2 separate regions of the Homo sapiens genome follow, and region 2 is reported to be linked to region 1. Evidence: microRNA targets listed by miRTarBase, many of them from high-throughput screens and not tested one by one. Region 1 holds a microRNA gene; the other region holds the end of a gene's coding sequence.

What was found. The annotated mature microRNA hsa-miR-1537-5p reads AGCUGUAAUUAGUCAGUUUUCU and lies in region 1 at 6,396-6,417, shown strand. An mRNA with a match to its seed (bases 2 to 7 or 8) in the 3' UTR can be bound and repressed. Matches are read on the target gene's strand: a 7mer-m8 pairs with bases 2 to 8, a 7mer-A1 pairs with bases 2 to 7 and ends in A, and an 8mer does both.
Region 2: miRTarBase lists ZNF740 as a target of hsa-miR-1537-5p. Seed matches in the 3' UTR shown: 8mer at 3,442-3,449, 7mer-m8 at 5,244-5,250, 7mer-m8 at 5,521-5,527 and 7mer-A1 at 10,190-10,196.

Annotation. Positions count from the first base shown.
Region 1 is chr1:235,844,261-235,859,453 of GRCh38, reverse strand. It overlaps MIR1537 (microRNA 1537), which reads left to right and starts at 6,394; the gene lies at 6,394-6,454. All of the region lies in intron 1 of LYST (lysosomal trafficking regulator), which reads left to right.
Region 2 is chr12:53,184,361-53,199,553 of GRCh38, forward strand. ZNF740 (zinc finger protein 740) reads left to right here. Exons shown (of 7, transcript NM_001004304.4): 3 at 531-680; 4 at 1,027-1,116; 5 at 1,594-1,717; 6 at 2,031-2,149; 7 at 3,141-10,782. The coding sequence ends at 3,230. ITGB7 (integrin subunit beta 7) reads right to left here. Exons shown (of 16, transcript NM_000889.3): 4 at 13,390-13,591; 5 at 13,133-13,303; 6 at 12,219-12,460; 7 at 11,681-11,839; 8 at 11,266-11,361; 9 at 11,014-11,103; 10 at 9,838-9,984; 11 at 9,348-9,541; 12 at 8,780-9,003; 13 at 8,331-8,550; 14 at 7,970-8,178; 15 at 7,499-7,659; 16 at 6,963-7,276. The coding sequence ends at 7,196. Among named protein-coding and RNA genes, the nearest start is that of CSAD, 11 kb to the left of the region's middle. RefSeq lists a silencer at 5,725-6,019.

The DNA of each region.
Region 1 (15,193 bases):
TGTTCAGTAAATATATTCTTTCAAATACTTTTGGTAATGAAGGGAGGTTAGTGGGTAGAAGCTTGAGGAAGTAGATGTGATCATTGGGAAGGTTTGTCTGTTTTAAGGATGGAGAAGCCAAGGACACTTCAGTGGATTGAGGGAAAGGGACCATTGAAGAGGAAGAAAATTGAAGTCACAAGAGGTAGAAGATAATTGATCAAATGTAACGAGAGGAAATGGAAGAGTCAGGTCCAGGAGGACAAATGAAAGAGTTACCCTGAAGAAGAGGAATGATGTATCTTCCTGTTTAAAAACGAAAAGGAAATGGGGTAGATATAGATATAAGTTAGTATCCAGGATGACATCTCTTTTTCTCTGTGAAGCAAGATTATCTGCTGAGATTGAGAAGGAAGAACATGGGTTGGAGTATGCTTGAGGGGAAAATAAAAGTTACTATTGAGATTGTAAAAGGGACTTAACTAGGGGCATGTGACTTCTTTGCTGAATCATGATGAATACCCTTCCAGGCTTGAAATCACAAATGTACAGAGGCCAGCAGGATGGTTAAGCAGTGTTCTCCAGCAGCCTGCCTGCTCCCACTCCCCTTCCCTGCCCCCCATAACAATGCAGAAAACAAATAGACTGAACTTGGACCACTCCCCTTCCCCACCCCCATAACAATGCAGAAAACAAGTAGACTGAACCTGGATTGAGATTGGAAGGGAAGATGTGATGGAAAACTTGAGTAGGGGGTAGTGGGAAGTCAAGGAATAGAGAGTGGTAATGAGGCTGCTAATTGAAGGGTTGAGCCATAGGAATCCTGCTTATTAAGGAACAAAGCCAAGCCAAGACAAGGCTGGTAAATGTGGATAATGAAGAGGATGAAGAATCTAAATGAGTCAAGTGCAGGATTAATGGAAATAAAAGAGTACTAGAGATGGAAAAATTGGCACATAGATGTGAGAATTCTCAATTTAAGATTCTGGAGTTAGCAGTTTCAGGTGATGATAAGGGCCAAAGAATGACCAATGATGGGTGGATAGCCAAGATTAATAGTGCTAATTATAACAATATTAATATTAATAAAAACTACTATTCATTGAACACTGTGTAGTAGTCACTATAGTAAATATTTTCCATAGGTTATCATGCTTATGTTTCACATATTAGTATCAACATTTTACAGATGAGGAAACTGGAGCTCAGTGAGATTGAGTAACTTTTCCCAAGACTCACAGCTACGAAGTACCTGAGTCTTTCTGAGTCCTTCTAGCATTGAAGCACTTATGCCTGACTACTAAACCATGCTAGCCTTCTGCAAAGTAGGGGTCATTGAAGAAGAAGGCAAAGAGCATTAAGTCTTGTGTGTTGGAATCAATTGTTCTTATGGATAATGAAGTCCCCAGAATATATAGCTTCTGTGTGGAAAGGAAGATAGTCATACGACAAAATTCTCAGTAAATGGAGATGGCTGACTCAAAGGTCAGTAGGTGACAACTATAAATATAGCTATAATGTAATCTTAAAAGTGGATAAAATCGAATAACAATGACTTACAAGTCATCTTGGGAAACTAGGAGAATACTGACTTGTCTTCCTGGCCCCCAAAGTGATGCATATGAAAATATTAACCATTCATTTCTTAACCCTCTCTTCTCTCTTGGCTTGTGAAATTTTATATATATATGTGTGTGTGTGTGTGTGTGTGTGTGTGTGTGTGTGTGTGTGTATTTACATATGTTTGTGTATATATACGTGTGTGTGTGTATATATATACACCTGTGTGCACACGCGCACACACACCCACAGACACACCCCCCTCTTTTTTGGTTTTCCTCGTACCCCTCTAACCACTCCTCTTCAGTCTCATTGGCTGGATTCTTCTTTGCCAGCTCCTTCATGTTGGTGAGCCTCTGGATTCTCTCCTCCTCCTCATTTCTCTTTCTTTGTGCTTTCCTTTGATGATCTCATCTATTTCTAAGCTTTCATATACCACCTATATGTTAATGACTTCTGAATGTTCATCTAGAGATGAATCTAGAACTTTCTTCAAATCCCAACATCCTTATATAGGAAGATGTACCCAGAAGAAATAGCCCATGATATTTCAGGGCAATATCATGTGACTAGAGAAAGTCATCTTAGGCTAGTAATCTCCACTCATGCCCATCTAGTTGAGGGCTCAATTCACTTATTTTCAACATCCACAACCATTTCTAAGGTGATAGCTTCTCTGGTTACTTATCACTGGTATGACCAAACATCTTGATTTGCCTAAGATGGCTCTGGTTTATGCCTATTGTTCAAGACCAACCTGGCCAACATGGTGAAACCCCATCTCTACTAAAAATACAAAAAATTAGCTAGGTGTGGTGACGCACACCTGTAATCCCAGCTACTGAGGAGGCTGAGGCATGAGAATCGCTTGAACCTAGGAGGTGGAGGCTGCAGTGAGCCGAGATCGCACCACTGCATTCCAGCCTGGGCGACAAGAGTGAGATTTCATCTCAAAAAAAAAAAAAAAAAAAAAATCAGTATATCCTGTGTAACTTGTAAGAGCTGCTTATATCCATCAGCTCACTCTTATCCTACTTTTCATATTTAAGTGTCTAGACTTCATTGTACCTTTACTGCATTATGACTTAGAGTTTGTTCAAGATTAAAATCTTTTGCCATTTCCTGAATTTCTGCTTAGTGATGCTTCCAAAGACAGTAATACTGATAATTAGTCTTGAAATATTTCTCTATTAGCCTTATTTAAACATTTTGGAGAATGTTTCTAAAGTCATTTGCTCCACATTACTGAAATATATTTATTTTCTCTTCACCTTATTTTTTAAAAAACAGAACCCAGTAAGGCAGTTTTGATAAAACCTGATTATGCACAGTTTAAGGAAACATTGAAGATGTATAATTTTAATCTTAAATTAATGTTGATACTTACTACATTTTCTGAATGTTGTACTCTCATAAAAGTTCACAACCCAAAGAGGCATTTAGAGATCATCTAGTTTTTGTTTTTTAAATATCTGTAAGAATAATGGGCATCAGAAAGGTTAAGCACCTTGCCTGAGATCCTAAAGAGAACAAGGCAAAACAGAAAACTGAGAATCTCTTGACTTTTAGTCTACTATTCTTTCTGTTATACTACCAACCATTTGAAAATTTTAATGTATTTTAAGAAAGTGATCTCATAACCAAAAGATGTCTGTGCATCATAGAAACCCATAGTGTTTGGTTTTCAATATGTAATTTCCTTATTTTACCCCTTTAACTTTAACCCTTTTTCTTTATACAAGTCTACATTTAGACCACAGTGATAGAAACTACCGAGTATGATAGAAACTACCCAGTGTGGTAGGGAAAAAAATTATGTGGGTGGAATTTGAAATGCCTGTGCTCAGAAAATATTTATATATATTTCTTTCTTATTTCTGTTCTGTGCTCTGCTCCCCTAACTATCCATCTTCACACATGGTTATAGAACAGTAGATTCAGCCACCAGATCTGAGTTTGAACTTGTGGTTATCTTTCTTGGTGTGAAATGTTTTATAACAGTAAACACATTTTTCTGTAATTGACTGCCTCAATTATTGTTTTTTCTTTCTTTTGAAGGGAAGCTAATTTTTTTGTTTCTTAAGAATTATGAAATAAGAGGAAACGTGCTATCTATACGTGCAAGGTGTATTTAAAGCTTATAAATATCTGTGTTCAGTATGTCTAAAACTTATTTTGCAGAATCTTCTAAAACTTATTTTGCAGAATCTTTAACCTTATGCAAAATATATATGAAAAAAGTTTATTATTATAGTACAGCTACATAAATTATTTTTATTATTTTCATTTCACATTTAGGATAAGGCTCCAAGCTGTTTTTAGCATTCCTCAGGAGGTATGGAAAACTATCATGCTTATAATTGATTTTCAAGAACTTTTAAACTGTATGCTTTGGATTATCTTTAACAGTATGAATAAGCATCCAAAATTTTATTGCTGAAGGTTTTTGGTTTTAATATGAAAAATGTTTGGTAAGGTTTTTAAGGTGTTTCGGTAGTGCCTTAAATGCTAATTGTGGAATAGAGAGTGGCTTTTGTAAATGTGTCTGTTTCTCAGAGCCTTACCTGGGGGAACATTTCCTAAAGGTATTTGAATATTAAAATGTTTTCTATCAAAGTTAGTATTAAATGAACTGGTGTTTATTTATTGAACTCTTGTATCTGTGGTACTGTGTTAGATGCTCATATTTTTCTGATCAAATAAGATCTGGTTTCCTTTCTTAAGAAAAGTATAATCTAGTTTTAAAAGAAACAATACAGTACAGTGTGGTGAGTGATAAGATAGAGGCATATGGAAAAGTAATTAATTGGGAATTAATGGGAATTTCCATAGCAACATGATAAAAAATTAGTTGAGAAAGTGTATACCCTTTGAAGGAATTGCAGGGTGGTACAACGTGTTATGTGTTGGGAGTTTGGAAAAGCTAAATTGTAGCAGGTATTGCATACTTTGATAATAAGCAGTTGGGATCTTCTTCCCTATGAATTGGAGTGACATTTGTCATTCCAAGGGATATGAGTAACATTTTTAGTGGTAGCATATTTAGATTAAACAGAAAATAGACCAGACAGTGTGATCAAGTAGGAGGTTGTTAGTATTGCAAGTAAGAGAGGAGTTGAAGGTCTAAGGATGCTTAGGTGTAAGATTAGGGGGAAGGACCAGATTCAAGGTGATGATGATAATATCTAATAATAATTGATTTTCCTGCAATCTGCCAGGCACTGTGCTATGCATTTTACATGAATTATCTCGTTTAATGTTGATATTCGCAACAACTACAGCTACTCTTATGAACTCAGTTGTATAGATGAGAAACTGAGGCTTAGAAAGAGGAAGTCGAGTACCCAAGGTCATAGAGCAGCAGATGCAGAGGTGAACCAGTAAGTGGTCAAGAGGGAGAATTGACTAGGCACTAGATGAAGTGCTATTCTGGTTTCTCACCTCAGTCACTGGGTAGAGGCCATTTACTGAAAGAGGAATGAAGAAGGAAGAGCTGGCTTATTGGAGAGAGAAGTCAATGTCTGCTTTGGAGAATAGAAATTTGTATATAGAATACAAAGGGATTGCATGAGTCTGAATCCTGGCCCTGACACTTAGTAACTCTGTGACTTTGAGCAATGACCTAACCTTACTGTGCTTCAGTTTCCAATATGTGTCAACTAGGGATAATAATGTTACTTAGGAGATTGTTAGGAGGATTAAACTAACTACTCTACTTACCTAGAGTGCTTACAATAGTGCCTGATGTGTAGTAATTAATCACTGTAGGTGTTAGCCAGATTATCATCATCATCATCATGCTATAAAAATCCAAAGGTCTCTTTTGAGGAGGGATGTAGTAGTCAGTGTAAAACATCTAGCACATTCCTTCTAACAGGGATAGAAAGCCGGGGAGATGATTTACCTGGATGAACCTTCATAGTTCCTTTAAATGCCGTCTCTCTCTCTATAGCTACAATATCTCAGAATTTCTACCCTTTTGCGGTGCTCAGGGCCAAACACAGGTTCTTCCTGAGATATCTGGTTGCCGAATTTGTTTGTTTTTAGGAAAAATGAACTACCTGTTGAAAGGCTTAAGTTTGGTGCGTTTTAGTGTGACTTCCTCTGAATTTCTATTAAAATTTTGCCTGGCTGCCCTATGCCTGAGTTTCCTTTATTTCCTGGCCAGCTTTGTTCTGCAAGGAGCCAGAGTAACCTCTCCTCCCTAGGTCAGCGCCCCAGGTTTCAAGGCAGCCGGAATGGCATGTTAACCAAGATTTCATGGGCTTGGGGAGAGGGGTAGCGAAATAGGCAATGTTGTTTATTGACACCCTGAAATATGAAAAAATAATATGTACACCTTTCTGGGCCATTGCTGTCTTAGATTTCCATTCTTCCCCCAGAACTACTGCCTTACTGCTGTTATACATGTTTTTTTTTTTAGTTTTCTTTACACAATTCTACATAAATTGGAAATATTTCATTAAACACATTTTTCTACTTTAACTTAGCTTAAATGCATAATACAGAATAAATATAGGAACAGCACAACCATTTATTTCCATATTCACTAGTTAAGGATTATTATATTCCCACATTTTAAATATAGAACATCTAGTTCAGAGCCAATTCTTAACCCTCCGATGCTGAAATTTCTGATGCTCTTTAGAGCTGAAGGTGTTACTTCTTGTTAAAATGTACATACTTCTTTTCAAGAGGAGCAACATTTTTCTTCCAAGTCATTTACTTTTTGGTATAAATGTACAATGTGGAAACATGGAAAAAGATAACAAAGCTGTAAAACATCTTGAGAAGTTTGTGGGGGGGCAAGAAGTTTGTGGTGCTTGGAGGCGTGCCTGGGAGTTGGCACTAAGTACAGCTGTAATTAGTCAGTTTTCTGTCCTGTCCACACAGAAAACCGTCTAGTTACAGTTGTAAGTTGTGCCAGACCTAATCGCTAAAATGCTCTGAAAGGTAGAATTCTGAAAGATATAGTTTGGTTGTGAGTAGTCTGTCAAAAATTGTATGCAGTATTAGGAAAAACATTGGATAGGACTCTGCAGACCTAGCTGTTAAGTCCTCTGACTTTTGGGAAATCTCTTAACTGCTGTCTGCCTTAGTTTATCTGTAAAATTTTGAGGGAGGTGATATGGTCATTAACCCAGAGATCGTTTAACTCTCTGAAAGTTGATTGTAGAATGGATTCTCATTTTAAAATAATTTATTAAATGCGAACTCTGGCAGTTTTCCTTTATTGTCAATCAACTTGTCACTTACCTCAGTATTAGTTGAAAAAATGTCTTTTGAGTATGGCAGTTACGTCTTACATATGACTGTGTTCCAGAGGCTCATTTCTAAGATGGTTGTTGAGAATGTTTAGAATGCATAAGATTTGCCCTTACAGACAAAATAAACTACAGTATACTTGAGTGTTGCATTGTGAGACTTCCCCGGGAAAAAGGTCCGGCAAAGTGCTGAGATTACCTCAACATGTCTAACTGGCTTACTGTTTGCCTTACGTGGTACTATCCTACTTTTGGGGCCCTTTCCCCAGATTGTTGGAGCTACCACAAATGGCTTTGAGGTACAGGAATCTCTTCTCCCTCCCTGACAGGCAGGGGGCTGGGGGAGAATGGGGCAAAACATATTGCTAGCAATTCAAGTTGGAACTCTGAATTCATTTTCCCATTGAGGCATGAGTTGTTACTAAGATTCTGTAGGGTCTGTAGTTAAAAGCCTTAACAGCATTTCCTTCCTGAAGCTGTCCCAATGTTAGTATCTACGGAACTGGAGACCACAATCTTTATTTCCTAAGAATACATGACATCTTGACTTCTAGTCAGATGCTCCTTAATGCACTCTTCAGAGAAGCAAGTTCAGTATTTGTCAAGAAGGGCCTGGGCGCTAAACAACTGCTATCATTTCTTTTAAAGTTAATAGATTCAATGAAAGTTGAACATACCACGAAGTATGGTGAGTAGTCAATAAATATGGGATCATGATTTGTCTTATGGAAGATTTCAGTTTGTGAAACCATTTATATTATTGTTAAATTGGTTTTCATGAATTTTCTTATTCAGTTATTTAATTTAGAACTTTAAGTGTCATATCTTTCCCTGATCTGCATTTTAAATTCCAAGAGGAATTTGATCACACAAAGCCCATTAAATATTTTAATTTCCCCTATTTAGTGAGTACCAGATTTTGCTTCAGTATTCTCGAGAGTGTATTTATTATCCACTATAAAATAGATTATAAAGGTTTTTATATTAATAAAAGTAAATATATAAAAATAATATTCCTAATGAACTTTGTTTTGTCTTTAGTTAGGAATCATTCTTTTTTTGCCAATAAACCTTTTTATTTTTATTATTTTTAATTTTTCCATCAGTTATTGGGGTACAGGTGGTATTTGGTTACATGAATAAGTTATTTAGTGGTGATTTGTGAGATTTTGGTGTACCTATCACCCAAGCAGTATACACTGTACCATATTTGTAGTCTTTTAATCCCTCGCCCCCCTCCCACTCTTCCCCCCAAGTCCTCAGAGTCCATTGTATCATTCTATGCCTTTGCATCCTCATAGCTTAGCTCCCACATATCAGTGAGAACATATGATGTTTTGTTTTCCATTCCCAAGTTACTTCACTTAGAATAATAGTCTCCAGTCTCATCCAGGTCACTGCAGATGCTGTTAATTCATTCCTTTTTATGGCTGCATTGTATTTCATCATATATATATATATACACACACATATACATACATACTTACATACCACAGTTTCTTTATTCACTTGTTGATTGATGGGCATTTGGGTTGGTTCCACAATTTTGCAATTGTGAATTTTGCTGCTATAAACGTGTGTAAGTATCTTTTTCAAATAATGACTTCTTTTTCTCTGAGTAGATACCCAGTAGTGGGATTGCTAGATCCAATGTTAGTTCTACTTTTAGTTCTTTAAGGAATCTCCACATTGTTTTCCATAGAGGCTGTACTAGTTTACATTCCTACCAGCAGTGCAGAAGTGTTCCCTGTTCACCACGTCCATGCCAACATCTACTGTTTTTTGATTTTTTGATTATGGCCATTCTTGCAGGAGTGAGATGGTATCACATTGTGGTTTTGATTTGCATTCCCCTGATCATTAGTGATGTTGAGCATTTTTTCATATGTTTGTTGGCCATTTATATATCTTCTTTTGAGAACTGTCTATTCATGTCCTTAGCCCACTTTTTGATGGGATTGTTTTTTTCCTACTGATTTGTTTGAGTTTGTTGTAGATTCTGGATATTAGTCCTTTGTCAGATGTATAGATTGTGAAGATTTTCTCCCAATTCTGTGGGTTGTTTGTTTACTCTGCTGACTGTTACTTTTGCCATGCAAAAGCTCTTTAGTTTAATTAGGTCCCAGCTATTTATCTTTGTTGTTATTGCATTTACTTTTGGGTTCTCTGTCATGAAATCCTTGCCTAAGCCAATGTCTAGAAAGGTTTTTCCAATGTTATCTTCTAGAATTTTTATAGTTTCAGGTCTTAAGTTTAAGTCCTTAGTACATGTGTAGTTGATTTTTTGTATAAGGTGAGAGATGAGGATCCAGTTTCATTCTCCTACATGCGGCTAGCTGATTATTCCAGCATGATTTGTTGAAAAGAATGTCCTTTCCCCACTTTATGTTTTTGTTTGCTTTGTCAAAGATCAGTTGGCTGTAGGTATTTGGGTTTATTTCTGGGTTCTCTATTGTGTTCCATTGGTCTATGTGCCTATTTTTATACCAGTACCACACTATTTTGGTGACTATGGCCTTATAGTATAGTTTGAAATCAGGTAATGTGATGCCTCCAGATTTGTTCTTTTCACTTAGTCTTGCTTTGGCTATGCAGGCTCTTTTTTGGTTCCATATGAATTTTAGATTTTTTTTTCTAATTCTGTGAAGAATGATAGTGGTATTTTGATGGGGATTGCATTGAATTTGTAGATTGCTTTTGGCAGTATAGTCATTTTCACAATATTGATTCTACCCATCCATGAGCATGGGATATGTTTCCATTTGTTTGTGTCATCTGTGATTTCTTTGAGCAGTGTTTTGTAGTTTTCCTTGTAGAGATCTTTCAATTCCTTTGTTAGGTGTCTTCCTAAGTTTTTTTTTTTTTTTTTTTTTTTGGAGCTATTGTAAAAGGGGTTGAGTTCTTTTATTTGATTCTCCACTTGGTCGCTGTTGGTGTATAGAAGAGCTACTGATTCGTGTACATTAATCTTGTATCCAGAAACTTTGTTGAATTCTTTTATCAGTTCCGTGAGCTTTCTAGAGGAGTCCTTAGGGTTTTCAAGGTAAACAATCATATCATCAGCAAACAGTGAAAGTTTGACTTCCTCTTTACTGACTTGGATGCCCTTTATTTCTTCCTCTTGTCTGATTGCTCTGGCTAGGACTTCCAGTACTATGTTGAAGGGGAGTGGTGAGAGTGGGCATCCTTGTCTTGTTTTAATTCTCAGAGGGAATGCTTTCAACTTTTCCCCATTCAGTATTATGTTGGCTGTGGGTTTGTCATAGAGGGCTTTTATTACATTAAGGTATGACCCTTGTATGCCGATTTTGCTGAGAATTTTAATCATAAAGGATGCTGGATTTTGTTGAATGCTTTTTCTGCATCTATTGAGATGATCATGTGATTTTTGTTTTTAATCCTGTTTATGTGGTGTATCACATTTATTGACTTACGTATGTTAAACCATCCCTGCATCCCTGGTATGAAACCCACTTGATCATGGTGGATTATCTTTTTGACATGTTCTTGGATTTGGTTAGCTAGTATTTTGTTAAGGATTTTAGCATCTGTGTTCATCAAGGATATCGTTCTGTAGTTTTCTCTTTTTGGTTATGTCCTTTCCTGGTTTTGATATTAGTGTGATGCTGGCTTCATATAATGAATTAGGTAGGGTTCCCTCTTTCTCTTTCTTGTGGAATAGTGTCAAAAGGATTGGTACCAATTCTTTAAATGTCTGGTAGAATTCTGCCGTGAATCTGTCTGGTCCTGGACTTTTTTTTTAGTGGTAATTATTAAATTACCATTTCAATCTCGCTGGGTCTGTTCAGGGTATCTCATTCTTCCTGATTTAAGCTAGGAGGGTTGTATTTTTCCAGGAATGTATCCATCTCTTCTAGACTTTCTAGTTTATGTCTGTAAATGTATTCGTAGTAGCCTTGAATGATCTTTTGTATTTCAGTGGTGTCAGTTGTAGTATCTCCCATTTCATTTCTTAATGAGGTCATTTGGATTTTCTCTCTTCTTTTCTTGGTTAATCTTGCTAATGATATATCAATTTTATTTATCTTTTCAAAGAACCAGCTTTTTGTTTCATTTATCTTTTGTATTTTTTTTGTTTGTTTCAATTTCATTTAGTTTTGCTCTGATCTTGGTTATTTCCTTTCTTCTGCTGGGTTTGGGTTTGCTTTGTTCTAGTTTCTCTAGTTCCTTGAGGTGTGACCTTAGATTGTGCTCTTTCAGACTTTTTGATGTAGGCATTTAGGACTGTGAACTTTCCTCTTAGCACCACCCTTGCTCCATCGCAGAGGTTTTGATAGGTTGTGTCATTATTGTCATTCAGTTCGAAGAATTTTTTAATTTCTATCTTGATTTCGTTTTTGACCCAATGCTCATTCAGGAGCAGGTTATTTAATTTCCATGTATTTGCATGGTTTTGAAGCTTCCCTTTGGAGTTGATTTCCAGTTTTATGCCGCTGTGGTCTGAGAGAGTGCTTGATATAATTTCAGTTTTCTTAAATCTATTGAGACTCGTTTTGTTGCCTGTCATATGATCTATCTTGGAGAAAGTTCCATGTGCTGTTGAATAGAATGTATATTCTGCAGTTGTTGGATGAAATGTCTGTATATATCTGTCAAGTCCATTTGTTCCAAGGTATAGTTTAAATTCATTGTTTCTTTGTTGACCTTCTGTGTTGATGACCTGTCTGGTCATTGGAGTATTGAAGTCCCCCACTATTATTGTGTTGCTGTCTCATTTCTTAGGTCTATTAGTAATTGTTTTATAAATTTGGGAGCTCCAGTGTTAAGTGCATATATGTTTAGGATTGTGATATCTTCCTGTTGGACAAGGCCTTTTACCATTATATAATGTCCCTCTTTGTCTCTTTTAACTGCTGTTGCTTTAAAGTTTGTTTTGTCTGATGTAAGAATACCTTGCTGGCTTTTGGTGTCCATTTGCATGAAATGCCTTTTCCCACCCCTTTACCGTATGTGAGTGCTTATGTGTTAGGTGAGTATCCTGAAGGCAATAGATAGTTGATTGGTGAATTCTTATCCATTCTGTGGTTCTGTATCTTTTAAGTGGAGCATTTAGGCCATTTACATTCAATTTTAGCATTGAAATGTGCGGTATGGTTCCATTCATCATGCTCCTTGTTGCCTCTGTACTTTTGTTTGTTGTTGTTTTGTTTTTGCTTTTTAACTTGCATTTTTGTTCTATAGGCCCTGTGTGATTTATGCTTTGAAGAGGTTCTGTTTTGATGTGTTTCCAGGATTTGTTTCAAGACTTGGAGCTCCTTTTAGCAGTTCTTCTAGTGGTGGCTTGGTGATGGCGAATTCTCTCAGCATGTGTTTGTCTGAAAAAGACTGTATCTTTCCTTCATATATGATGCTTAATTTTGCTGGATACAAAATTCTTGGCTGATAATTGTTTTGTTTGAGGAGTCTGAAGTTAGGGCCCCAATCCCTTCTAGCTTATAGGGTTTCTGCTGAGAAATCTGCTGTTAATCTGATAGGTTTTCTTTTATAGGCTACCTGGTACTACTGTTTCACAGCTCTTAAAATTCTTTCCTTCATCTTAACTTTGGATAACCTCATGACAATGTGCCTACGCGAAGATCTTTTTGAGATGAATTTCCCAGGTGATCTTTATGCTTCTGTATTTGGATGTCTACGTCTCTAGCAAGGCCAGGGAAGTTTTCCTCAATTATCCACCCAGATATGTTTTCCAAGCTTTTAGAATTCTCTTCTTCCTCAGGAACACTGATTATTCTTAGGTGTGGTCATTTAACATAATCCCAGACTTCTTGGAGGCTTTGTTCATATTTTCGTATTCTTTTTTCTTTGTCTTTGTTGGATTGGGTTAATTCGAAGACCTTGTCTTCGAGCTCTGAATTTCTTTCTTCTACTTGTTTAGTTCTATCGCTGAGACTTTCCAGAGCATTTTGCATTTCTAAAAGTGTGTCCAAAGTTTCCTGAATTTTTTATTGTTTTTTTTCTTTATGCTATCTATTTCTTTGAATATTTCTCCCTTCACTTCTTATATCATTTTTTGGATTTCCTTGCACTGGGCTTCACCTTTCTCTGGTCCCTCCCTGATTAGCTTAATATCTAACCTCCTGAATTCTTTGTCAGGTAAATCAGGGATTTCTTCTTGGTTTGGATCTATTGCTGGTGAACTAGAGAAATTTTGGGGGGGTGTTGAAGAGCCTTGTTTTGTCATATTACCAGGGTTGGTTTTCTGGTTCCTTCTCATTTGGGTAGGCTCTGTCAGAGGGAAGGTCTAGGGCTGAAGACTGTTGTTCAGATTCTTTTGTCCCACGGGGTGTTCCCTTGATGTAGTATACTCCTCCTTTTCCTATGGATGTGGCTTCCTGTGAGCCGAACTGCAGTGATTGTTGTCTCTCTTCTGGGTCTAGCCACCCAGCGAGTCTCCCTGGCTCCAGGCCGGTACTGGGGGTTGTCTACACAGAGTCCTGTGATGTGAACCATCTATGGGTCTCTCAGCCATGGATACCAGCGCCTTTTCTGGTGCAGGTGGTGGAGGGTGCAGTGGACTCCGTGAGGGTCCTTAGCTTTGGTGGTTTAATGCTCTATTTTTGTACTGGTTGGCCATGTTTTAATGCTCTATTTTTGTGCTGGTTGGCCTCCTGCCAGGAGGTGGCGCTTTCCAGAAAGCATCAGCTGTAGTAGTACAGAGAAAGATATGCGGTGGGCAGGGCCCTAGAACTCCCAAGATTAAATGCCCTTTGTCTTTTGCTACCAGGGTGGATAGGGAAGGACCATCAGGTGGGGGTGGGGCTAGGTGTGTATGAGCTCAGCAGCTCCTTGGTTGGGTCGTGCTGGGGCTGCTGTGGGGAATTGGGGGTGAGATTCCCAGTTTACTGGAGTTGTGTACTTAGGAGGATTATGGCTGCCTCTGCTGAGTCATGAAGGTTGTCAGGGAAGTGGGGGAAAGCCAGCAGTCGGAGCCCTCACCCAGCTCCCACGCAAACAGAAGGGCCACTCTCACTCCCACCGTGTCCCCCCTAACTGCCGGGAGTCTGTTTCCAGGCTGAGGGCTAGATGGGCTTGAAAACTTCCCCGAGGCTATCCACCTCTCAGCTACGAAAGAAAAGGGCTTTAGTTCTTCCTTCCACCTGTGAAGTCTGCGAGCTGGATTTGCACCCTCCCCGGAGTTCTGGCCAGCAGGCTTCTCACCGCGTTCAAATTGTTAGAAAGTTAGGCTAGAGAATTCCTTTCCCTGTGGGGTTTTACCCCCTGCTCCTCTAGCCACCCTCCCAATGGATCCTTGTGGTGCCAGGCAGGAATGGGCTACTTAAGGACCCAGGGAGCTCCCAGGGCCTTTCTGCTGCATTCTCTACCCCTGTAATTCACTAGGCTTGGCTCTCTAACTTGATTCAGCTCAGGTAAGGTCAGAAACTTCTCCAGCAAACAGACCTTCAGCTTCTCCAGTGGGGGTGTGTGTTCAGGAGAGGAGGGTCTCCCTTTCCCACTTGCACAGTTGGGGCACTCACAGTATTTGGGGGTCTCCTGGGGCCTGCAGGAGCAATCCGCTTCCTTCAGAGGGTCTGTGGGTCCTCTCGGGATTGCTGGTTTGTTCTTGCAGTGGATCTGGAGCTCAAATTCACAATGCAAGCCACCACATGCTGCTCTGTCCAGAGCTGCAATCTAGTCCTGCCTCCCTTCGCCATGATCCCAGGAGCTCCTCTCTTTAGTTAGGAATCATTCTGATGGTTATTGCTTAACACATCTAGTATTGACTAAAAAGTTACACAGTAAAGCTTAGATTAACAGATATTTTCTTGCTTAAATATTGTACAGTTCAACTGATATGTTTTAACTGGCTTATTCTTTAAAGAGAATTATATTAATCTGAACAAGTGCAGTTTCCCCCTCCCCCTCTTTGGTCCCCTTCCCCCCACCAGTGTCCTGCATTTCAGACATATAGTTCTGTGTTGTAGTCTAAAAAGTTTGTAGAGAGAGGTTTAAAAATCTTGTTTCCAGGTGTATGTATTACAATCCAGTGGACTTGAGTAAAGGTTCTGGATACCATTTAGAGGTAGTATTTAGTGTTAGGGAAACGCCTTTGCCTGTTGTCTAATTTCTAATCGACAGAAGAAGAAAGGCTATGTATCTTCTAAACTTGCTTATTTCAGTTTTAGTTAATTACCCCCCAAAACATATGTAACTCCAAGACAACTGGGATAGTAGAGTCCAGTGACTAATCATTTCTGTGACCTTGGACCTGTAGGCCTCAGTTTTTCTCAACTGTAGAATGTGGGGTTAGAGAATATGATATCTAAAATTTCTGCCATTATGACAACATAAGATTCTAAGTTATTCATGTTTATTCCTTTATTCATGTCATTTATGAAATGATATAAATGGTGTTATCTTTTTTTCTCATA
Region 2 (15,193 bases), not on the chromosome of region 1:
GTATTTTTAGTATAGACAAGGTTTCACCTATTGTCCAGGCTTGTCTCGAACTCCTGACTTCGTGATCCGCCCGCCTCATTCTCCCAAAGTGCTGGGATTATAGGTGTGAGCCACTGCACTCGGCCCAGCTGAGGGCTGTTGAGGGAGGAAGGAGGAAGGTCCTGAAGGAATCTCCTGTGTCAGTGGGTTAGCAAGATGGAACCTCATACCCACTCACAGTTAAGGCCTAGAAATACCTTCAAAGAAATATGTAGCCACACACTGCCTAGTGCTGATGACAAAGGTGTCAGTAATACTTGATTATTTACTTGATCTATATTTAAATGCTGAAGGATGACAAGATAAGTCGTTCCTGGTGAGATGAGTTAGGGAGGACTCTTGAAGGAAGCAAGGCTTTGGCAGTGAGGAGGGACATTCCCTGGAGAGAAGCAGTTTGTAGCAGGGTGTAAAAGGTAGTTCTATAGAGGATGGCAGTCTGTTTTTGCCCTGCCCTGCCAGGTGACCTGACACCTCATCTCCTTTCAACTTAGGCAAGTCTCCTGGCTTGTGAAGGCCTAGCAGGTGTGAGTTTGGTTCCCACTGCAGCCAGCAAGAAGATGATGCTGAGCCAGATTGCCAGCAAGCAGGCCGAGAATGGCGAGCGGGCAGGTAGCCCTGATGTGCTGAGGTGCTCGAGTCAGGTACAGCGCTTGAGTCCATTGTGGCACCTGGGGATCGGGTGGCCCAAGCTCTCTGCCAGGAGATACCAAGCTCTGATTCCTTGATGCTTCCTCATAGGGAAGTGGGGCAAGGGGATCCAACTGGGGAATGGATGAACATTGGTATTTCAGAAAGCTAAGGAAGGTCTTTTGTGTGCCTTCAACTCTTTTAAGACCAGGTGCTTGGAGAGGAAATAGTTGTATACTTCCTCTAAGCTTTCGGGGCAGGTGGTTTACTCTCATTTATGAATTTTGTCTGAGAGCTGCATTGGGTCTCATCTCATGTTCCGAGATGGGCTATGAGTTTAGATTTGATTTGTCTTCAAAGGGTCACCGAAAAGACAGTGATAAGTCCCGGAGCCGCAAAGATGATGACAGCTTGTCTGAGGCCTCTCATTCAAAAAAGACTGTTAAAAAGGCAGGTAATGGGGTGATCCCCCAAACTCATACAGTTTGGTAATGGGGTAATATTCCTCCTTCTTCCCTCTACCATGTAACCTGGAGCTTTCCCTAGATGCTTTGATCTCTGATAGCCAGTGAGTGAGTCCCCCAGATTTCATCCAGAGACTACCTTGGTAGTTGATCTCCTGCCTTGCTGGAACAGTAATGGTACAGGTTGGGGAGCATGAGATCCCAGATCCCGAGGCATGGGAGCAGGCAGGCTCCAGCTCAAGTCATACTCAGACTGCTGGGTTTGACAGGATAGACAGCTTACCCACTCCACCTCCTTCCCCAAAGGGTCTCTTACCTCCATGGAGTACAGGAGATGGCAGCACCTTTAGACAGCATCAGAGAGGTTCCTTTCTCCAACAGCTGGAAGTGGACCCAGAGTAGAACAGTGTCTCCAGGAAGAGGGCAGTGGTGGCCTCATGACATGCCTGATTATTGCCCCCAGGTGGTGGTAGTGGAACAAAATGGTTCTTTTCAAGTAAAGATTCCCAAAAATTTTGTTTGTGAACACTGCTTTGGAGCCTTTCGGAGCAGTTACCACCTAAAGAGGCACATCCTTATTCACACTGGTAAGTCTCTTGTTTATATTCAAAAGGGGGAGAATAGTCTATCGCTTGTATTCCATGTCTGTTTGTGGCTCTAGTTGGGTTTATTTTAATGGGTAAGTATTAGAAATGAAGGAAGAAGATAAGTCAATGAAGCAGAGAGATTGCATGGCTTTGTATCTGGTGTCACTGAGACCAGCACCTTTGGGGACCTCTCCCCATTTATGATCACTTAGGTGTCTACACATTACTAAGAGTTAAAGTTTCTGAGAAAACTGGAATGAGGTCCCTACTGTACATACCTCCCCACATTCACTTCTCTGTCCACCTGGGCCAGGTGAGAAGCCATTTGAATGCGATATATGTGATATGCGTTTCATCCAGAAGTACCACCTGGAACGCCACAAGCGTGTGCACAGTGGTGAAAAGCCTTACCAGTGTGAACGGTGTCATCAGGTAAGGCTCATCCCTGCTACAATACCCCACACACACTTTTCCTTCCCCAAGAATCAGGGCCACCCTCCACTCCTGCCTGACAAAAGAGCCACCAGCGTTACTCGCCATAATAGTTAACACATCGGGGTGAAGTGCATCTGTCTGGCCTTATGCAGCTGATCATGGGGAGCAGCAATTAGAACATTGTAATAATAATAATAATAGCATTCCATATCACTTACTCTATGCCAGGCACTGTGAGAGCATACTTTACATAGATGATTTTATTTAATCCTCACATTGACTCCCTAAGGTAGCTGTATTGTCCTTATTTCACGTATGGGAAAATTGAGATTCAGAGAAGTTAAGTTTCCCAGGGACACCGCAGATCACGAACAGAGCTGGGATTCAGTCCAACTTCAGAGCTAATGCACTTTGGAGGAAGAGATACAATCTTTGCCCTGGGGGTCAGTATCTGATCTGATGAGAATGTAAGAGCTGGGGCCAAAACAAGACAAGAACAAGAGATGAGAAATGATAATAGCTAACACTTCCTGGATGCATTGCTAGGTCCCAAGCTTTGCTCTGCACTCTTACACTGAATCTTCAGACGCTAGAATAAAAGCTCCATGAGGGCAGAGACTTTGTTCCTCTGGTTCTCTACTCTGTATCTGCCTTGAGATAGATACTCAATAAATCTTTGATGAATAAAGCAGCTGTGCTGTGAGTAGGTACTTTTAGCCTCGCTTTGCAGTTTTGCAGATGAGTATGCAGATTCTGGGCTGTTAGGTAACTTGCCCAAGGTCACACAGCTGCTGAGTGATAGAGCCAAGATTCAGCCCCAGGCGGTCTGGCCTGAGAGCTTGGATTCTCCACCACCGTGTGCTCCTGCTGTCTGTGCACGTGCTGAGGGGATGGAGAATGTGGTATCTGCCTCCTGTGAGAGGAATGAGTTAGCCAACAGGTAGCTGCGTTTGTCTGCTCAGGCACTTAACCCTCCCTTTCTTCTCAGTGTTTTTCTCGGACAGATCGATTACTCAGACACAAACGGATGTGCCAAGGGTGCCAGTCCAAGACTTCCGACGGGCAGTTTTCTCTATAGGCGCAAGGGGCCCCGGGTGGTGGGAGTGATCAGAAGAACCTGCCGAAGAGCACACCCCCTCTGGTCTGATGGTCCCACCACCGCCCCATGTGAACCTGTCCCACTCCTGGAGGAGTGGACCCAGGAGACCAGAAGAGTGCATCAGGGGACAGTGGCCCCAGAACCTCAGCTCTGTAAATAATCTGAGACTATGAGTATCTCGGGGAAGTTCTTACAGCATTCCTGGGTAGGGGAGCTAGTCCCTGGACCCTTGGCTGAGGTCATAGGTGGGGACTCAAGGTACAGGACCAAGACTGAAGTGTGGCTCCCACAACCTTGGACTCCAGCTGGCAGCTGAAATGGAAAAGATTGGGGAAGGGGATTTGTTTGTTCTGTTCTTGTTTTTGTTTATCCAAAAGCAACTTCAGCGGGTAAACTGTGGATACAGGTAATCCAGAGGCATAAGAGTCCTGGTCCAAAGTAGGGACTATAGCTGGTCCAGCTCTCCCCAAAAATTGGGTTTTTAGTTGCAGTAGCTCCTCAGTGTTTCACAATCCTGCACTTCGCCTCCTTTTTGAGGAAGAATAAGGTCAGGAATGGCAGCTGAGCTTACTTTGGCTTCCTTATACACTGTAGGGACAAAAGGAAAAACGGGGTGGAGCAGACAAGGGCTGGATCCAAAAAGTGGATGGCACCTCTTCCTTCCTCAAGGGAAAAGGAAGAGTTGTGCCAGTGGGTGTTGTCATGGCCCATGTCACATTGGCACCTGATGGCATCAGCTCAAATGCCTTTAGGAGGAAACTTGGGTGAGAGTGGCCCATGAAGCCCTTTTCTTCTTTTTTTGGGGAGTCGGTCTTGGAGATGGTATGTGGCTACCTCGCTGCCATTGACTCCTAAAGTGAGACAGATGTGTTGAGCAAGGAGTCATGGAAGTCAAAGTGGGTTCTCTCTCCTTGTGCCCTCTTAGGAACAACCCAAGACTGGTCCCAAGTTGGCTAACAGCTGCTCAAGAAACAAAGGAATCTGGGGTCTTCTGACATGCCTGTTGAGCAGTAGGAGCTGTTCTCCCTCCCCAAGTCCTATCACTGTATTCAGGTAGAGGAGGTAGGGAGGGGTCTGTCCTTTGGTCCCAAAAAACAAGATCTCGGCTTGCTTCCTGATGGCCATCCCTACCCAACAGAGTGTGGGGGATGGGGGTGGGGGTGCTGCAGAGAAAAGACTAAAGAAGAAACCTAATGTAGGTTCCATTCTTAACCATATTCTTTGCTCCTCTCTGCTCCAATACCACCACCTTGTCCACTCCCAAAAAAGTAATCGGGTGTGTGTGTGTGTGTGAGAGAGAGTGTGTGTGAGATATGAATGCATGTATTTGTATGCTTGCAGGAGATGGCATATTATTGAGCCAAACCCTTCTCTGGCCCTCACCTTCAGGGAGGATGAGTGGAAAATAGCCTCCTCTTGCCCAAACATGAAGGGTGCTTGAGGTCTCAGCAGGAGCTGAAGAACACAATTTGGGGAACAGAAGGGCTTTTGTTTTGGAGGGTTTTTTTTTTTAAGATGAATTCAACAGCCTGGTGGTTAGGATGTTTCTAACCCAAGCCAGGGCTTGTGAACATGAATTTTCTAAGGTGAAATAAACCTTTTCTTTCTGCTAAAGAAAGAATCCTTATGGGAAGTTTTGGGGTTTGGTTGACCCCCACTGTAACCTGACCTGACCTGTGGCGGGTACGGGAACTGTCTTAGTAATCATGGAGACTGGCTGAACCTGAGTGCCAAGCTGTCAGTAGGGTCTGAGATGGGAAACTCCTGAAAGTATGATTTCATTTCCCAGAAAATGTAAAGAATGGATACCAGCAATGATTCCTGGCTGTTACCTATTCTGGAGGGGTGGGGTTGGGGAGGGGGTTGTCCATACCTCTGTGGTATGAGTATTTCAGGGAAAAAGAAAGCAGGCATGGCACCCATTCGATTTTCCCTGACAGCATCTGAGATCCTTTTGGGGAGACGCTGAGGAGTGTTTGCTGCCATGTACTCTTACAGCTCTATGCTGACACTCCCATTTGATGTGGTCCAGAACTTAGACCTCAGTCCTTGGATCAGCCCTGTGGTCCCTGCAAGCAGGGGCATCTTTCTGCATGTGAGCCAGCCCCCTTCCTGTTCAAGGGTTCTGCTGGATCTGGGCTTTTCCTGTCCTTCACTTCTGGGATGATTCACCCCACATCTTCCAGTACCCTGTAAACCATTTTAAAATATTTAGAAAACTATCCTCCCAAAAATGCTTTTGAAAATGAGAGCCCTCTGTCCCTGCCACTTACAGCTAGTCTCTTTGGGATAGGGGTGTATGTGGAGAGATTCATGTAAGTCTCACATGAGTGACCTGTGCCCCTATGTGTACTAATGTGTGTACTGGGTCAGAAGGTGCCCTGGGTTCCCACAGACCTTGGTTTCCTGCCTGGGTGGGTGGGAGGGAGGGAACTTCAGAGAGTATGTGCGAACAGCCATAGCAGAGCCACCCCTGCCAAGGACCCAGTGAGGGAAACTCAGGAGCAGGTGGTTGGTTCAGTTCCCGCGCTGATGTCTGGGGCAGTGCATGTGTGAGAAGAGAGGCGCAAAGCAGTGAAAGGAGTGATTTGGCATCCAGAGGGCCCGGGAGCCCCACGGATACCCCAGGGAAGCCACTGACTCACACCGCTGCAGAGGCTCCTGGGCCCAATGCCCGACCCCTGCTGGCCAGCATGGGGCCTAGCACTGGAAGATGCCTCAGGTGTGTTTGGAGTGGGGGAAACGGAAGTAGGGCACGCTCTCAGAGACCAGGATAGAGAGTCAGGGAACCTGGGAAAGAGTAGTGCCAGTTCCGGGTAGGCTGCTGCACCAGGCCCTACCAGCTCAGGCTATAAACAGTCTGCTTTGCCCCAAGTCTTTTCCGTCCACCCCCAACAGCCTTGTCATCACTTAGCTACTGATCACGCCCATGGCTTGACATTGGAGGGTTACATTAGTGGAGTCCGCCACAGCTTCGAACCCTCTCCCCAGATGCCCTTTGCCTCTGCTGTGGCCCTGGGGTTTTATCAACTGTCCCCTTCCTATCCTCCTCTCCACCCTGTTTTTTGTTTTTTTTTTTTTTAAATAATATTTTGCTATGGGGGAGGGGAATATCAAATGGACAAGATCACTTTTAAATGGTAGTTTTTATAAGATGTTATAAACTTGTATCTTTTTACCATTAAAGTGCAGTGTATGTTCCTTCGTGATATATTTAGGATATTTAAATAAAAGGAAAATGGGGCTTTTCTACATACTATCTCCTCTTTGGGGAAGCTTTTTCATACTGGTTTTAGTTGTTTTCCTTTTTTCTCCCTACATAATCACCCCACAACTTCCAGCACCCTATAAGCCATTTTAAAACCCCTTCTCCACAGAGGAACAAGCAAGTAGGAGCAAAAACAGGGCATCAGTTCTGAGCAAGACGAAAAAGCACACGCAGCAGGACGGAAGGAGGCTAGACACCAACAGATGCAGTGTCTCTGACCTGGGACCCCCCTGCATCCGCAGCACTTGAGAATTCATAGGCCCTTTCCAGACCTGGCTTCCTGGGTCCCAGGGTGCACCCCGGGAGTTTCCTGCACATTCGCGCTTGGGCACCTCTCCCTGCCCTCAGGTGGCAAGAGGAGGATGGACAAGAGCTTTCCCGAGGCCCAGGCTATAAACAGTCTGCTTTGGCCTTGATGAGGTAAAGCAAAGTGACAGCTGTGGTCTGAGGTAAGACTTTATTGTATACTTGGGTGGGGTAGCCCAGATGGATGCAAGGTTGCAGGCATGGGAAGCAGCCCTCTTGGGTGTCACTCTGAAAATGAAGTAGGGTGGTGGCCGCACCTCGCCAGTGAATTAGTCCCCTACCAAGGTCTTACAGACCCACCCTTCCTCTCACCCTCCAGTTCCCACTGTCCTCCAAGGAGAAGAGCCTTGGGTAAGTGTCCCTCCCTCCTTCAGAGAGTGGGACTGTCTGCCTCTTGAAAGCGAGGATTGATGGTGGTCGTGATGGCACTTTTGTAGAGAGGATTACTGTCCTGGAGAAAGATGTTGCAGATTATAAGCAAAAATCCCAGGATTCCTCGTCCCCTTTCTAGACCTAAGAGGCCAGCCTTGAGCCGAATCCTAGGAGCTGATGGAAGTTAGCAGAGGGGTTGGTTACATGTGCCAGGGGCTGGGGGAACCCAGTGGGAGGAATCAGGGCTGGTCTTGTGGTGGGGGAACAGCTAAAAAGGGGCCTAACCAGGAAGTCTCCTCACCTGCTTCCAGTTGAGTTGTTGCTGCTCCTTCTCAAAGCGACTGTATTCCCGGCGGTCATAGATTTCCACCGAGAGCCGGTAAGCCAGGACCAGCCCCAGCCCCACTGCCACGATGCCCCCTACGCAGCCCAGCACAATGGCCTGCGTGTGGTCTGCTCCCTCTGTGAACAAGAAACCAGACACACTTGTGGGAGCTGGAGCATAGGGACAGATCATCAGTTGCTCACAGTGTGTCCAGCCTGTCCAACCCTGTCTGTCACTGAAAGCAAAGGGAACCCAGGGAGGTCCAAGGTTATCCTCACCGCCCAGGGCCTTAGCCTCGTCCACTTGCTCAATTGCCTCTGCCTTTGTCCTGGATTCACAGTTCTGCTTCAGCCCCCAGCCTGTTTCCCATTATCTTCACTCTGCATCCCCAGAGTTGAGACCCTGCCCATCAAACTTCCAGGGTTTGTGGCATCCCTGCCCACTTACTTTCTTGGGGTCTCACTCTGAGCACGACCGTGCCTCTGGCGTCATCCTCCACCAAGAAGAAGAACAGCTGGTTGTCCAGGGTCCGCTCTTTGCACCAGCCATCATCCAAGATAGGGGCCAAGGCCAGGGTCACATTGGTATGGGCACAAGCTGTACTGCAGTTGGTGGCCAGTGGGCCAGTCCTGAAGGCCCCACACTCTGCACAGTCCCTGTGTAGTAGATGCCAATAGGTTACCAGCTGGGCAGTTGTCACCCAATGCCCCTTGCCCAACTACAAGCAGGACGGAGAGTAGGCAGATGGGAGTAGCTCAACAAGCCCCACTGTGCCCCTGCTCCCAAGATGCAAGACCTGAGGCCTCACCGGTGTCTCTCGCATGGTGTCTTGCAGCCTGGGCATTGGTCGCATAGAGCACCATAGTAGCCGTCCAAGCACTGGCAGCGGTTGCATTTGCAGCGTCCATGCCCACTGCAGAGCCCTCCCTCGGGACTGATGCAACTGTCCATGTCCCCACTGCATTCGCATGCTCTGCCCGTGCGGTTGGCATGACAGTGACATACTCCACATTGGCAGCGACCAAAGCCTGGGGTAGAGCCATGCAGAGGGTGACAACCATACTCCACACACACAGTTGGCCATCATGTGGCACGACAAGCCCACGCATCCAATCTTTTTGAAGTATGCCAACCACACCCTCTAACCCATACACCGGAATCTTTTGATATTTGCCTTCCATGCCAGGAGATTCCCAGAGCCTAAGTGCCTTGGGAAGGCCTCTCAGACCCCGCCCTTCTCCCCAAGGCTCCAGGTACCTCCGCAGAGGATGCCCTCATGTCGCTCACAGCTGGCATCGTCACACTCGCACAGATGCCCAGAGCTCTGTCCACTGCAGCTGCAGCGTCCACATTGACAGTGACCCTTTCCACTGCACAGGGGCCCTGTGCCATTGGGAGCCCGGCACCCAGATTCCAGGTCTGGGGAGGACAGCTCTGCCACAGAGCACTCACAGAGCCGACCTAGGCGGCCAGGGGCACAGCTGGAAGGGGAAGGCAAAGGAGAGAAGTAGGTCAGAGGGTTTGATCACCCCTGACTTGTCTCTCCCAGGAACCTCTAAACCCAAGTTCTCAAAAGAGTTGGAGACAGACAAACAGCTGAAAGGATGTTAAGTATAGTGAAACACTGAGGGGTGAGAGAGTGGAGGGAGCCCCAGTCAGGGGGAGGGCCTGGACATACATGGGAAGCTTCAAGGGATGAAACTGAGTGGGGAGTCGGGATGTCGAGGAGACTCCTGTGGGGGGGATGGAAAGCAGCGGAGGAATACGGGCCAGGGTTGGTTGGTTGTTGGGAGCCAGGTGGTTGAAGGGAAGAGGAGGCCCTCACCTGCATACACCACATTGTAGGTGTCCCTGGCCATCACTGCAGTGGGGAGCCTGGGGCTGGGTGTCACTGCAATTACAGTCACACAGCGTGTGCAACTCCACAATCAGCTCCTCTGAGAAGCCAAGGGCCCGGAGCCTCAGGAGATGGGGCTCTGGGAGGCAGTGGGTGGCTTGGAGAGAAACCCAGAAAGTCACCTGAGAAGAGGCAGGAATCAGGCCATGGTTATACACATGCACACACACATACCCCAAACTCACCAATCATCCAGAACCTCACCCCTTAGTAAATGAAGGGATGGGGTCATGTTAACACCCAACTCCTAGAAACATGCCTGAGGAAGCCACTCAGACTGCTCCAGGAAGGATGGATGGAGGACTACCTCAGGCTCTCATGTCACTCCCTGTACCTGCCACCCATCTTTTCCTGCCTGCTTAATTTCCCACTCCCACCTCCCCCTGCCCGCCTTCTGCCTGTGCTTGCTGGCTCTCACCGTCTGGTTGATTCGGACGTGGTTGCACTGTCCTCGATCCTCAGCCTTACCCTCCCTCTTCTCAGGACCCTCACACTGGGATTCGTAAGAAATGTGGACCCCAGGAGGGAGTGAAGAGTGTTCAAGGGTCACGGTGGAAGACAGGCTCTATGGGAAGAGAGCGAGTGGATAACCACGTGAAGGCAGAAAAGGACTCCAACCCCACCTTATGTCCTCTCCAGGTGTTCCCAATTCTGCCAGCACCCTGCCCTCTGCCACCTGGGGCTCCTTCCATTCTGCCCAGTCGAGGCATTTCTGGAGGGAGGACCCGTGAGAACCTTGCATAGAACATACAGGATCCAGAGGCCTCTAATACAGCATTTCAGTGCAGCTGCCAGCAAGGGCCACTGAGGGTCACAGGCTGGCCAGGTGCTGTAAATGTACAGAGACCATGTTTGTGAAGCCCCACATCAGGACACATAACCTGGGTGCATGCCAGGTCTAAAGGGCAGATTCATTACAGAGTTTATCTTGGGAAATTTGATACTGTCTCAGATTTTCTTGCCATAGGTTTAGGAGATGCTCCCTGTTATCAAGAAGCCTACAGCCTAGTTGCAGAGGTAAGACCTAAACCACTAAGAATTTTTATGGTTCCTTCTACCTGTAAAATTCTATGGTTCTTGTGAAGAATAGCTCTGAATTATTTATAAACTTAGTGAAAGCAGGCTCCAGATCTCACATTGTTTATGTACAGACTGACTGGGGACAAATGCCAGCCCTTCTGTTTGTTATCTTTGTGACCTTGGACAAGTCACTTAGCCTCCTTGTGTGGGTTTCCTCATCTGTAAAATAGGGATGGTAACAGTTATGAAGCAAGGCTTTTGGCAGGGTTAAATGAAGTAGCAAACAGTATGTACACCTAGGATGGTGGGCGCATGAAATAAAAGCTCAGTGATTGAAACTTTCCTTTCTTGCCCAGAGCAGAGCTCCATGCTGTCTGCATGTCAGATGTTTTAAGATTTATGAATGTAAGATTGAACAGTTAATGACAGCCACATGCAGACTATAGGTAGGAGCTGTGGAATGTTAGACCAAAAAGTGACCATTTCCTCTTAGTTCTGCCACCCCACCCAAGGGCCCCTTTCCACCTTTCCCTAGTGCCCACCCTCACCATCTCCCCTTCCCCTGGCCCCTCACATTATAAGCATCCATGATGAGCTGTACCACGTTGCTGGAGTCCTCACTCAGCTCCCCAACTGCAGACTTAGGAATCAGTTTACTCAGCTCCTGAGTTTTGGGGAGTTAAGGGAAATGGTGGGTCACAGCTCTAGGAAAATGGGCTCCCGGAGGTCTGGAAGGAGGGCATATGGGGGACGGAGAATGTATCTTTGGGGGAATTGAGAAAGGTTGGGATGGGGCTGGGGGATCTGACATGTAGACAGCTCTCACCTGGTAGACAGGCAGTGCGGCACTGGTGACAGCAAAGATGGGCTGGATATTTGCTGCAGAGAGGGCCTGGGCTACCTGACCCACAGAAGGGTAGTCCTGGGACAGGGAGCAGGGACAAGGTGAGCCCCACAGGTTTCCCCCACAACATGCAAGGTGCCCTCAGCCCAGGGAATCCAGGAACCAAGGTTCCACCAGCTGGAGGAGCCCTGGAGGCTTGCTATGGAATAGGAAGGAGGTAGGGAATGGGGTGACAAAGGTGTCCTGTCTCGGCAGCTGAAAGGAGGAACTGCTGGAGAAGATGGCAGGGTGTCTACAGGGTGGTTACTGGTGAGGACTGTAAGGCTGGGAGTGGGAGTCCTGGAAGGAAAGAGGTGTGGCTGAAATGGGGAGAGGCAGGGTGACAATAGGGACTCACAAACTCTGTGCTGCGACTGTAGAGGCCATTGCTGTCCAAGTGGCAGTGCCCATCACTGGGCATGAAAATGCCGCCCAACTTCCCGTCCCCAGCTGTATGGAATGTGTCGTCTGAAGTGAACACCAGCAGCCGGGACACATTTCTCCAGCCAATCTGCTCCTGAGTTACAGTGGGGGTGGTAGGCTATGCACCTGGGCATGGCCCTTGAGCCACCCCAGCCAGCTCTGTGAGCCAAGAATGTGGCCAGCCTCACTCTGAGTCAGCTTGTCCATCCCCTTGCCTCCAGTACCTTGCTTCTCCCTGCTCTCTCCAGCCCCCTAAAGAAGGCTGCTGCTAGTGGAGGCTTACTTGTGAATTCGAAAAACATGCCTCCTCCTCAAGATATTTTACTCCAACCCACCAGGTAATTGCTAAATATACAAACTACAGCAACTATGGTATGAATGGCACCCCCTAGAACTGTGCACTACACAACCATAAGGGGCAGTCCTGTTCCCAAACAGACCTCCAGGCTCAGATCCCCGCCCCACCTCCTCACCTGGCAGAGTGCAGCCTGCAGAATGGCATCGAAGCCACCTTCAGGCGAGTCCAGATTGCCGGACACACTCTGGCGCCCCACCTCCCGCTCGAAGGCTTGTGCGTCCCCCGTCAGGGACAGCACATGGTGAAAGCTGAATGGTGACTGGCAGCGCTCCAGCCGGGTGGGGCAGGGGTGGCGCAGTTTGGAGGGTACTGTGCTCACAAAGGGCAGCACCGTTTTGTCCACAAAGGAACCAAAACCTGGGAGAGGAGAGGAATGAAGGTTGTGCCAGAAGTCGCAGGGCAGCAACAGAGGACCCATGAGAGCGCTCTATGGGAAGTGGGGTGGGGAGGACGGTGATGGGAGAGGGTGCACCTAGGGGGCAGGGACCTGGTAACTGGCAAGCAAAGCAGTGAGACCACTGGCTCAGGGAAGTGGCAGGTAGAAGACATTAAGAGGAGGACACAACTTCCTGGGCAAATGGGAACTTCCAGAAGGCGGAAGAAGGCCCGGGTATAGGATATGGTAGCAGCATGAGGCAAAGGAAGGAAATTTGAATAGAGGAGAGTTGGCACAGAATGTGGAGCCAGGGACAGTGGCATCTAGGTCTTGTCCAGGGAGACTTGCATCAGGGCAGGTTCCAGGTTGGTAGGCCCAGGGCAGCTGTCCAGGCCCAGAGAGTGCCTGAGCACAGTCTCTCCAGACGCTGGGTCTCAGGCCTGTAAAACGGATAGTCTCTTGAGTCCTCTCCAGCTCTGACCTAGAAGATGGGTGTCTAGGGAGAGATGCAGGAACGAACCTGTGGCCTGGCTAGGCCTGTCAACAACTGGGAGGGCAAGTTGGGGCCCTTGTGAGTCCAGGATGTTGGCAGAGGCTAGGGCAGTGGTTGAATAGGCAAGGGCTAACAGGGCGGGAGGCAGCGCTCGGCTCACCAATGCGCACAGAATGGGTGACTTCCTGCAGCCGGACCAGCAGAGCGTGCCCGAGCTGGCGCACGCGTTCCAGGTCGTCCTTCATGGAGTAGCTCAGGTCCATAAGGTAGTACAGGTCCACCGGGTATCCCTCAGCACGAAGGAAGCGGACCTGGAGCTGCTGGGGCTCCCCTAGGGGGTGGGCGGCGGGCGGGTCAGCAGAGCGCATTGGAACGCCAGCCTAGACCTCTGGCCTGGCCCCGCCTCCCCTAACTCACCAGGCCGCAGCGTGACCCGGACCCGCTGCGGCGCCAGCTGGGTGGCACCCTCTCCGCGGGCGCCCTGGCTGAGCGGCTGGTCCTGCAGCACCTCCTGCTGGCCGCGGGGCTCCTCCAGCTCCTCCAGCGGGCAGCCTCGAGCCAGCAGCTCCTCTCGTCGGGCGCAGCGCCGCGCCTCCGCCTCTCCCGACGCGGTGAAGTTCTGCTCAGCAAGAAAAGGCGCGTCGGGACCCGGTCCTGCATAGGCCCTGGGCCCCGCTCCCAAAAACACCCTGCAAACCCGGCCACCTCTAATGCCCCCACCTCCAGTCCACTCCTTGAGTCCCTGATTCCCTCCCCTCTTCCTCGCCACAGCTACCCTTGAACTCCGGTCTTTTTTGTTGTTTTGTTTTGTTTTTGAGACGGAGTCTCACTCTGTCACCCAGGCTGGAGTGCTGCGGTGCTATCTCCGCTCACTGCAACCTCCACCTCCCGGGTTCAAGTGATTCTCGTACCTCAGCCTCCCGGTAGCTGGGACTACAGGCATGTGCCACCACGCCCAGGTTTTTTGTATTTTTAGTAGAGACGGGATTTCCCCATATAGGTCAGGCTGGTCTCAAACTTTTGACCTCAAGTGCGCCCACCTCAGCCTCCCAAAGTGCTGGGATTACAGACGTGAACCACCACGCCTTTTTTTTTTTTCCTACTGTAAAGACAGGGTCTTGCTTTTTTGCCCAGTCTTGTTTCGAACTCCTGGCCCCAAGAAATCCTCCTGCCCCAGCCTCCCAAAGTACTGGGATTACAGGCATGAACCGCCACCGGTGGAACTCTGGTCCTTTCTTCCTTGTCAGAGCCCCACTTCCTATAGCAGTCCCCCACCCCTCCCCTATCTCAACTCCCCCTTGCCCCAGCCACCTACCCCTCTCCTCCCCAATAGAGTCACAGACTTCCTGTTGAGATCTTAGAGACTTCACTACCACAAAAAAACAGGGGCCTTGCCTCCTAGGCCAACCTCCCCAGCAAGCTCACACCAAAATGGGAAGGTGGTCAGACTAAGACCCACAGCTCCTTGGAAAGGAAAGGATAAGAACAGAAGAGGAGGCGTCCTCCCCACCAATATGTCTGGTATCCCTGGGACTGGTTGGGAAGCCACAGGGGAAGGAAATGGTTAGAGCGGCTTCTCAGCTGGCCCTAGGTGTCAGGAGACTGGAGAAGCCAGACACAGACCTGACCATCTCAAGAGCGCCAGCTCCCCAGCTCCAGCCTGGCACCTCTGCCTCTCTGCCTTGTGCAGACTCAGTATCTACCCTTCTTGTCCAGTCAGATTCACTGTGTGCCTTTCTCCTGGGTCCCTGTGTGCCTTTCTCCTGGGTCCTCTAAGCATCTGTAGCTCTGCTTCCATGTGAATTTGCCCCCATCTCTTATCTGGGCTCCCACACTGATCTAACCCTCCATCTTACACTGAGAGAGGCAGACCTGCCCCCATCCCAGCTTGGGCACCCCTCCTGCTCTGCTGCTCCATGAGTTCTGTCTCTTTAAAGCATAAACAAACAACAGCTTTGTTTGAAGAGCCAGGGAGACACCTGCTCCCTAGCATCCTTCTTGGCCACTTAGGTAGCTCAAGCCTTTCCAGTCCCCCTCAAGCCCATATGCTTCCACCCCTTCCCTTTCTACCTGTCCAGTCATAGGCTACTACACACCCAGGAACAGAATGCCTCCACCCAAAACACAGACTTAGAAATCTAACCACACACTTGCTGCTATGGACTGAACTCTGCACCCCTACCCCTCCCCACCCCCACCCCATCCTCTGTTGAAGCCCTAA